Linked DNA regions of Homo sapiens: region 2 is linked to region 1. Evidence: fine-mapped expression QTL. A gene starts in region 1. The other region holds a variant in brackets. All regions are shown on one strand. Distances are between the middles of the regions. Region 1 holds the start of ZNF880 (zinc finger protein 880). Region 2 overlaps ZNF528-AS1 (ZNF528 antisense RNA 1).

What was found. PIP is the estimated chance that this variant, and not a neighbour inherited with it, causes the effect.
Region 2: its variant is fine-mapped to the expression of ZNF880 in anterior cingulate cortex (GTEx, PIP above 0.99).

The regions. Positions count from the first base shown.
Region 1 is chr19:52,367,333-52,372,710 of GRCh38, reverse strand. It overlaps ZNF880 (zinc finger protein 880), which reads right to left and starts at 2,788. Exons shown (of 4, transcript NM_001145434.2): 1 at 2,734-2,788. The coding sequence starts at 2,745. It overlaps ZNF610 (zinc finger protein 610), which reads right to left. Exons shown (of 6, transcript NM_001161425.2): 6 at 4,933-5,378. RefSeq lists enhancers at 2,347-2,486, 2,687-2,796, 2,807-3,106.
Region 2 is chr19:52,389,541-52,394,918 of GRCh38, reverse strand. ZNF528-AS1 (ZNF528 antisense RNA 1) reads left to right here. Exons shown (of 7, transcript NR_125345.1): 6 at 72-128. It also overlaps a transcript of ZNF880 not described here. Among named protein-coding and RNA genes, the nearest start is that of ZNF528-AS1, 5.5 kb to the left of the region's middle. The variant T/AT (reference allele first, on the strand shown) is at 2,088.

The DNA of each region.
Region 1 (5,378 bases):
ACAGGATGGTCTCGATCTCCTGACTTCGTGATCCGCCCACCTCGGCCTCCCAAAGTGCTGGGATTACAGGCATGAGCCACTGCATGCCCAACCTGATATTCTTTAAATTAGTATAGATTTCTAGGCCGGGCGCGGTGGCTCACACCTGTAATCCCAGCACTTTGGGAGGCCAAGGCGGGTGGATCATGAGGTCACGAGATCGAGACCATCCTGGCTAACATGGTGAAGCCCTGTCTCTACTAAAAATACAAAAAAATTAGCCAGGCGTAGTGGCGGGCGCCTGTAGTCCCAGTTACTCGTGAGGCTGAGGCAGGAGAATGGCGTGAACCTGGGAGGCGGAGCTTGCAGTGAGCCGAGATGGTGCCACTGCACTCCAGCCTGGGCAACTGAGCGAGACTCTGTCTCCAAAAAAAAAAAAAATTAGTAGAGATTTCTAATTTTGTGGACAACATAAGAAATACAAAAAATTAACCCACAGTTATTTCTATAGAAGCGTCAGATACAATATATATAATTTTTTTTTAGATGGAGTCTCACTTTATTGCCCAGGCTGGAGTGCAGTGGCACAATCTTGGCTCACTGCAACATCCGCCTCCCAGGTTCAAGTGATTCTTCTGCCTCAGCCTCCCGAGTAGCTGGGACTACAGGCACCCACCACTGTGCCCAGCTAATTTTTCTATTTTTAGTAGAGACAGGTTTTCACTATGTTGGTCAGGCTGGTCTTGAACTCCTGACCTCAGCAATCCTCCCGCCTCGGCCTCCCAAAGTGCTGGGATTACAGGCGTAAGCTACCTCACCCAGCCAGGATGAAGCTTTTGAACACCTCCCATGTGACAGGCACTTTCTAAATGTTGTACATGTACTAACGGCTATAACAACAAAAGCCCATAAAAGAACAATCTGTTCCCATCCTATTGAAGAGACAACTCTTTCTCAGACATTCTAAGAAACTTGCCCCAGGTGTGAAGGCTAAAAATGGCAGAGTAAGCGCCAGATCCCAGGAGTCTGGGCATTAGAATCAAACTTTAAGAATTAGGCCAGGCGTGGTGGCTCATGCCTGCAATCCCAGCACTTTGGGAGGCCAAGGCAGGTGGATCATTTGAGGTCAGGAGTTGAAGACCAGCCTAGCAAACATGGTGAAACCCCATCTCTACCGAAAATAAAAAAATTAGCCAGGCGTACTGGTGGGCACCTGTAATCCCAGCTACTTGGGAGGCCGAGGCAGGACAATCACTTGAACCCGGGAGGCAGAGTTTGCAGTGACCTGAGATGGTGCCACTGCACTCCAGCCTGGGTGACAAAGCGAGACTCCAGCCTGGGTGACAAAGAGAGACTCCATCTCAGAAAAAGAAAAAAAAAAACATCAAACAATAACAGATCAGCATCAAAAGTAAATTGACAGACAATGACCTAACTGAGTATAGTTAAAATAAGTTCCGGGATTAAAATCAAGAAACTGTCGCACATGTATCCCCATAACAGGTTACTATCCTTACAGCCATAGACTCACTATCATAACAGTGTAGAACAATTTTAAGGTCATGAAAATATATAAGATGTAATTTCAACTGTTAAAAGATATAAGACGTATATAAACTGATGATGCGCCTTTGATAAAAACAATAGACTTGCTCATCTGTGCACTCATCCACACACATCACATGTACACACTTATTCATATACATATATACATTCACACACATATACTCTAGTAAACATATATGTGACAACTGAAAGAGTTGTCTGTCAATAACCTCTTTTTTAGATATTTGTCTTTGTTCGTTTTTTAATGTGTCCAGGTTGCAGTGCAGTGGCTTATTCATGGCACACTACAGCCTTGAATTCCTGGCCTCAAATGACACCCTCTCCGAGTAACTCGAATGACAAGCGTGCACCACTGTGCCTGGCTGTCGTTGTTTTTGCAAATGTGCATTTCAGCATGTTTGCAACAATAAAAATGTATAAACTGTGCTCAATTCAGTTTATAAACATTATTTCAAACTATTTCAAAAAGTCAGACCATGTAAAAACATAGAAACGAGAATTCCAATCTCTATTAAATACCCGTACTGAAACATATGTTTCAAAAATTGAGATGGGGGTCTCACTATGTTGTCCAGAGTGGTCTCAAACTCCTGTGCTCAAGGAATTCTCCAGCCTGGGCCTCCGGAGAAGATGGAATTCCAGCCCCGGCCCATAAATATTAGGTTGGTGCAAAAGTGATCGCGGTTTGCCATTACTTTTGCACTAACCTAATTTTGTCCACTAAATATTTATTTAGGTGTTAGCAAAAGCCCAATGGAGGCTGAAACATCACAATCAGCAGTAAACATCAGATCGATTTCCTCTCATTTAAGGCACAGAAAAGGGGGCAGGCCTGTGAAAAGAGGGCGAGGCTTGGGGGACCGGAAAGACGTGGATCCATCTCGCGGGTGAGAACTTTACGCAGCGCGGGCCGTGTCTAGGGGTCACTGAAGGATTTGAAGCAGGCAAACTCCGCGACAGGAGCTGTCTACATGGCCCTGTGGTGAAAGACCGGGGACAGGACCAGCCTCCGAGCGATTTTAACACTCAGGGAAGCGACCGCCAGACTCTCATTAGAACGTCTGAGTTTAGTCGGGGTGGAGGGAGCGATGCGGGGATTTCAAGGTCTGTGTGACCCCTGAGATGCCGGGTACAGAAGCGCGAGGGGACTCAGCATCCCAGATTTAATCTAAACAAAGGGAAACTCACACGCCGCAGCATGACCGTCACTCCACGTAATCTGCTTCCGGGTCTCCAGGAAACTGCGCGCGCAGCTGAGAGGCGAGGCGAGGCCAGGCCCGGGTGGGATTGGGCGGAGCCTGCGCTTCCCTCCGCCTCGCTCCCAGCTCGTCTCGTTTTGGAGGCTAGACCTGCCGTGGAGACTGGAAGAACTCAGCTATCTGGAAATAGATTGTGTCCCGGCAGAGGGAAAGTTTGTTGATGATTAGATCCAGGAAAATTCCTGCTATTAAAATTAATTTTAAATCGGCTGTAGGGGCGCTCGCATGTGGTCCTAGCTACCCGGATGCTGAGGTGGGAGGATCGCTTGAGCCCATGAGGTGGAGGCTGCAGTGAGCCGAGGTCGTGCGCTGCACTCCCGCCTGGGCATGAGAGAGAAACCTTGCGCCTAATAAATACATAATCATAAATAACAAATTGGAAATAAATAATTAAAATAAATAAATATAAATGAATAATAAACACTAGTTTCCGGAATTTTAAAGTCCTTGAATTGTTTATGAAGGGGATGCAAATTAAAATATGAAATGCAAAACCCTGCCAGGGCGGAATGTGCAATTTCCTTTTTTTTTTTTTTTTTTTTTTGGAGACAGAGTTTCGTTCTTTTGCCCAGGCTGGAGTGAAGTGGCGCGATCTCGGCTCACTGCAACCTCCGCCGCCTGGGTTCAAGCGATTCTCCTGCCTCAGTCTCCCGAGTAGCTGGGATTACAGGCGCCCACCACCACACCGGGCTACTTTTTTGTACTTTTAATAGAGACAGGGTTTCTCCATGTTGGCCAGGCTGGTCTTGAACTCCTGACCTCGTGATCCGCCTGCCTTGGCCTCCCAAAATGTTGGGATTACAGGCGTGAGCCACCGCACCCGGCCAAGTTTTTTTTTTTTTTTCATATTTATATTAATCCTAGTGTATACCTGCCATTGTCTTATGGACATACTCAGGTCACAACTTTTTTTTTTTTTTTTTTTTTTTTTTTGAGATGGTCTCCCTCTGTCTTTCAGGCTGAAGTGCAGACAGCTCACTGACTGCAGCCTCGACCTCCTGGCATCAAGTGATCCTCCCATCTCAGCCTCCCAAGTAGCTGGGACTACAGGCACACGCCACAATGCCCAGTCCCATGTCACAAAATTTTGTCTCCAAACAGCACTCATTTATTTGTCCCCTAAAGTTTTCACCAGAGCAAAACAGGGAAGAAATGTATTAAACATAGAATTTGGAGGCAATGTAGGAAAAAAATGTAAAAATATATATACATACAAAAAATATAAAAATATACATGCTAGGTGTGAATTGTAACTAAGTTTCCAGTATGGGTAGTGGGTATCCCCGCCCCAGCCCTACCCTTTAGCAATCATGACACCCCAAGCCAGTCACCTATCCCAGTTCTCTGAAGCCACTTTTGGACCAGCTGGAAAAGTATACCCTGCTTTCCCCCACAGAGCCTCATTATATAATAAACACTCTCAAACCATATCAGTGTATGGGATCATCATTCTCAAGATCCAAGCCAAACCTTAGGGGGACTTCAAACAAGTTCCAGAAGAGTGGTCAAAAATTCAAATTACCAAAAGAGTTGTGAGGGTGACTATATGAAGTTTCTAGTTAATGTACCAAAACAAAATTCCCTTTCTGTGTGTGACTTAAAAAGAAGATGGGTGAACATTAATATTTTCAAATGATGTCACTGAACACTAGAAGTACAAAAAGAAATTGTGTTACAGTATTATTATTATTTTTTTTTTTTTGAGACGGAGCCTTGCTCTGTCACCAGGCTGGAGTGCAGTGGGGTGATCTCAGCTCACTGCAACCTCTGCCTCTTGGGTTCAAGCGATTCTCCTGCCTCAGCCTCCCAAGTAGCTGGGATTACAGGTGCACACCACCAGGCCCAGCTAATTTTTTTTTTTTGTATTTTTAGTAGAGACAAGGTTTCACCATGTTGACCAGGATGGCCTCAATCTCCTGACCTCGTGATCCACCCAATGCAGCCTCCCAAAGTGCTGAGATTACAGGCGTGAGCCACCAGGCCCGGCCATGTTACAGTATTTTTGCCCTCAACCCATACTTTATTTCCTAATATTTGTCATATTACTATATATTTTTGCTGCATGAAAATGAAGGTGCACACCATAGTTCTTATTTGGCACACAAGAAAGAGGCATGTAGAAACACAATACAGGGCATACTCTTTAACACTCACACACATTTGAGGGTGTACAAGGCTGAAATTGTACTATTAAAGTGATTTTGACTTTACCCACATAAACATCCTACACCAGAGTACAGAGAAACTAACTCAAGTACTAAGTGTAATTACTCAACATCATACTTACTTAAGTATATTGCACCCAGAAGCGTATGTTGTTTTATGTCTCACACACATACACACACACACACTTTTCTGGCTGCTTCAACCTTAAAATCATAATGGGTTATTATTCTCTACTATAAAGTATCCTCCTGAGGTAAGATTAAACAACGCTGGTAGAAAGGATGTAATTCATTCACACTAAGAAAAATTTAAACTAGGCCGGGCGCTGTGGCTCACACCTATAATCCCAGCACTTTGGGAGGCCAAGGCCAGTGGATCACTTGAGGTCAGGAGTTTGAAACCGGCCTG
Region 2 (5,378 bases), 22 kb before region 1:
CGAAGGGACAGAGACAGTGGTGATGTGTTGAAAATAGAGGGATAAAGAGATTTTTTTTCTCACCTTTAAAGATGGAGGAAGTGGACCATGAGTCAAAGGATGTAAGTGGCCTCTGGAACCTACAAAGGGTAAGGAAACAAATTCTCCCCTGGAGATTAATGAAGAATCACAGAACTATGGACCCATATTAGATATGTGACTTACAGAATTATAAAAGAATAAATTTTTCTTGTTTTAAGCCAATCACTGTGTATAGCAATAGGAAACTGATGAAATGATTTTATGTAGAAAATTCCAAAAAAATCTACAAAAATCTCTAGAACAAGAAAAATGTAAAGGTAGCAAAGTATAAGGTCAACCTACAAAAATATCGTATATTTCATCAGCCAGGCATGGTGGCTCGTGCCTGTAATCCCAGCACTTTGGGAGGCCAAGGCAGGCAGATCACTCAAGCTCAGGAGTTTGAGACCAGGCTGGGTAACATGGTGAAACCCCATCTCTACAAAACACAAAAATTTAACAGGCCATGGTGGCACATGCCTGCAGTGCCAGCTACTGGGGAAGCTGAGGTGGGAGGATGACTTAAGCCTGCAGGACACAGGTTGCAGTAGCTGAGATTGCTCCACTGCACTCCAGCCAGGATGACAGAGTAAGGCCCTGTCTCAAAATAATAATAATAATAATCTTGTATATTTCTATACACTAGCAATTTGCACATGAAACCTGATATTAAAAATAAAATACTATGTATGATTGCTCCATTAAGAAAAAGGTCAAAGAGGCCGGGTGCAGTGGCTTACACCTGTAATCCCAGCACTTTGGGAGGCCAAGGCAGGTGGACTACGAGGTCAGGAGATCGAGACTATCCTGGCTAACACGGTGAAACCCCATCTCTACTAAGAAAATACAAAAAAATTAGCCAGGTGTGGTGGCGGGTGCCTGTAGTCCCAGCTACTGGGGAGGCCGAGGCAGGAGAATGGCGTGAACTCAGGAGGCGGAGCTTGCAGTGAGCTGAGATCGCGCCACTGCACTCCAGCCTGGGCGACAGAGCAAGACTCCGTCTCAAAAAAAAAAAAAAAAAAAGGGGGGGGGCAAAGAAATACATGTGAAACAAAACATTCATAGAACTGTTATGTTACAACTACCAAATGCTGATAAAAGAAATCAAAGACAGCAAATAGAGACATATACCATATACATTTATTGGAAGACTCCATGTAAAGCAATATGAATTATACAAATCTGACACATAGGGTTAATACCTTTCCTAATTAAGGCATTCTGCAGATACTAACAAGGTTAGCAGTTATGTAGAAAGACAAAAAACCCAAACACCTAAAATAGCTAAAACATCTGACCAACAACAACAAAAGATTGGTATCACTTCATGTGATTTCAAGTCTTCTAATACAATAAAAGTATTTTTTCCCTTTCTCATATTTACAGTAAACCTAGTTTGTATTTGTCATTGTCTCGAAGCAAGAATCTGTCCCAGAAAAAAAAAAAAGAAAGAAAGAAAATTTCCATTCAAAACTAACAGGATTTAGGCCAGGCATGGTGGCTCACACCTGTAATCCCAGCCCTTTGGGAGGCTGAGGCGGGCAGATCAAATGAGGACAGCAGTTCGAGACCAGCCTGGCCAACTTGGTGAAACCCTCTCTCTACTAAAAATACAGAAATTAGCCAAGGATGGTGGCAGGCACCAGTAATCCCAGCTACTCAGGAGGCTGAGGCAGGAGACTAGCTTAAACCTGGGAGGCAGAGGTTGCAGTGAGCCGAGATTGCGCCACTGTACTCCAGCCTGGGCAACAGAGTGAGACTCTGTCTCAGAAAAGAAAAAAAAAAAAAAAACTAACAGGATTTATACTATTGGTTTTCCACAGAATTCTCCCAGTTGCAGAGTTTCCCAAACACTATTTATTAGTGTGGCTTTGCAGGGTGCAGTGGCTCACACCTGTAATCCCACCAGTTTGGGAGGCAGAGGAAGGAGGATGACTTGAGCCCAGGAGTTCCAGGCTGCAGTGAGCTATGATTGCCACTGCACTCCAACCTGGCTAACAGAGCAAGACCCTGTCTCTCAAAAAATA[T/AT]ATATATATATACAGCTTCCACTCTGCCCATCTGAGCTCTTACCTGTGTTCACACCTTTGATCCATTCCCTCCCATCTGGATTTTTTTGCTATTTTCCCTTCACTCTCCAGAGTCCAGGGCTCTCTCCTTTGCTCCCACATAGAGATAATACTCAGGTCAGGAAGACAGATTCCTGTTTATAAAAAAAGAGAACCAAGGTGTACTGTGGCACCTTTAAAACTCAAGCCCTGGGCTGGGTGCAGTGGCCCAGGCCTGTAATCCCAGCACTTTGGGATGCCGAGGCAGGCAGATCACTTGAGGTCAGGAGTTCGAGACCAGCCTGGCCAACGTGGCAATATGCTGTCTCTACTAAAAATATAAAAATTAGCCAGGTTTGGTGGTGGACGCCTGTAATCCCAGCTCCCTGGGAGTCTGAGGCAGGAGAATCACTTGAACCCGGGAGGTGGCGGTTGCAATGAGCTGAGATAGCACCACTGCACTCTAGCCTGGGTGACAGAGCGAGGCTCCGTCAAAGTGAAAGAAAAGAAAGAGAGAGAGAAAGGGAGGAAGGAAAGAGAGAAAGAGAAAGAAAGTCAGTCCATGGTTTCCAAAACATACTTCTGTTTCCATTAATTTATTAGGAATGCTCTTCCATCTGGCTGTTGATCTGTGTCCTGTGTAACATCCTTTATAACAAATGGTACACCTCAGTAAATTGTTTCTCCAAGTTGTGTAAATCACTCTAGCAATAGCAAATTCTGGGGGCAGTTTTGTGCAACTGAGCCCTCAGCCTCCTGTGAGATCTAATGCTAACTCCCTATAAATGGTGTCAAATTGAGTTCAATTAGAGAACACCCAGTTTTTATCTGATGAAAAATAGCTTGTTGGTGGGAAGTAATCCCCACACATTTTGATGACCGGAGATGAGGCATTCTGTGTTGAGCATTCACTATTGTGTTGATTGTGAGTAGAAAAAACACTTTGGTTTTTCCTCCTATCTTATACACTCACACACCCTACCCCATCCCAGAAGTGAAGATAGTGACCCATACCTGAATGAGTCAAGTCACTGCCTGCCGTCTGGCAGAATAAGGACAGCAAATGGAAGCTAACCTCTGATACCAAGAATTAGGAAATGCACATGCCTTATAGACAGTTTTCCAATTCTCATCTTCATCTGTATATTTTAAACAAATGTGATGTTTATTATAGAGAAATTAATCATAATATCCAATCAATTCATCATTCATCTGGATTGAGTGTCCCCCTCTTTCCTCATTACTGTGTGTTTCTCTACCTACCTCTCATTCTCACCTTCTTTTCCTAGCTTTTTTTTTCTCTTTATTTTTCCCCTAGGATTCTCCTCATTTCAAGCCCTTCTTCCTTCTCCTGCTCTTCCCTCTATTCCTTCTCTTCCACTTGTTCTGCTCCTTTCTCACTTCTTTCACCTCTTATTCTTCTTTCTGCCCAATATTTGTCTCCAATTTTCATATAGTTCTGCCTCTTTCTTCCCCCCGTCTCTGCTGCCCCCTAGCTTCCCCTGTTAAATCCCCTCTTCCCTGCTATATCCACCTGTCCCCTCTCTGGCATCCCCAGATCCCAGTTCTCCCCAGGCTGTGGTTCTCCCTGTGCTCTCCTTATCACTGGCTGCCCCTCTTGCTCTCCCAGCACCATGCTGCTCTGTCTGCCCTGGCTCCAAATCCCTCCTTCTCTCCCCAACTCTCCATCTGAGGAGCCTCCCCTTTTCTGCCCCTCTCCCTATCTTGCTGAACTTTATCTCTCTAGAAACCCAGTTTTTCTCTAAATTTCTCTAGTTGCTTTTCTCCCCCTGCTCCTTTCTCAGCATCTTCATGCACTGTCTCTGCAAATCCCTCATCCACCATCTACTTTGCCATCTGTTTTGTTTTGTTTTTTGTTTTTTGAGATGGAGTTTTGCTCGTCGCCCAGGCTGGAGTGCAATGGTGCGATCTTGGCTCACCGCAACCTCCGCCTCCCGGGTAAAAGCGATTCTCCTGCCTCAGTCTCCAGAGTAGCTGGGATTACAGGCATTCGCCACCATGCCTGGCTAATTTTGTATTTTTTAGAGACAGGGTTTCTCCATGTTGGTCAGGCTGGTCTCAAAACTCCTGACCTCAGGTGATCTGCCCGCCTCAGCCTCCCAAAGTGCTGGAATTACAGGCGTGAGCCATCGCACCCAGCTGCCGTCTGTTTATGGGTCTCCTTCATTCTTCTTTCCCATTTCACCATTTTTCTATTTCCTCTCCTCCACACATTCATAGGGAGGGGACTGCAGTCAGATCCCCACCTCAAGAGCCCATTTCCTGTGGGATGGAATTTGGGACAAGAGAAACCTTAACGTCCTGAGATAGAAGTCACGTCCCCACACTCGATATCAGGAGAAGGGGAGGCCTGGGGAGCAGAAGGGCCCCCGATCAAGGAGGAAAAAGGCAGGAGAAAGTCAGGAGAGGGGCAGGGTCTGCAGGATCCCAGGACCAGGAAGAGTTCACGGCCTCCCTGGGACTGGGGCTGCGTCGCTGCGCTCCAGGAGCTGACGAGGGAGCGGAGCAGATGGGAAGCTCCCAGGGCGGGAATCAACCTTGCGGTGAGGACTTTAAAAAAGGTGCGGGCCAGTGCAGGGGACACTGAAGGATTTGAGGCAGGAAAACTCCGCGATAAGAGCTGTCTATATGGCCCTGTGGCAGAAGCACGGGGGACACGACCCCATGGAACTGTGTCCATTAAACCTCTTTGTCTTCATAAATTACCCAGTCTCGGGTATTTCTTTATTAGCAGCGTGAGAACAGACTAATACAGTAAATTGGTAATGGTATAGAGTGGGGTGCTGCTATAAGGATACCTCAAAATGTGGAAGCAAATTTTGAACTGGGTAACAGGCAAAGGCTGGAACAGTTTGGAGGGCTCAAAAGAAGACAGGAAGACGTGGGAAAGTTTGGAGCTTCCTAGAAAATGGTTGTTGAATGGTTCTGACCAAAAAGTCCAGGCTGAAGGTGGTCTCAGATGGAGATGAGGAACTTTATTGGAACTGGAGCAGAGGTGAGCTGCAGGGGCGGAGCCCTCATGGAGAACCTCTGCTAGAGCAGTGCAGAAGTAAAATGTGGGGTTGGAGCCCCCACACAGACTACTCACTACTCGCCTAGTGCAGCCGTGAGAAAAGGGCCACCCTCCTATAGACCCCAGAATGGTAGATTCACCGACAGCTTGCACCATGTGCCTGGAAAAGTAGCAGACACAACACCAGCCTGTGAAAGCAGCCAGGAGAGGAGCTGTACCCTGCAAAGTCACAGGGGCAG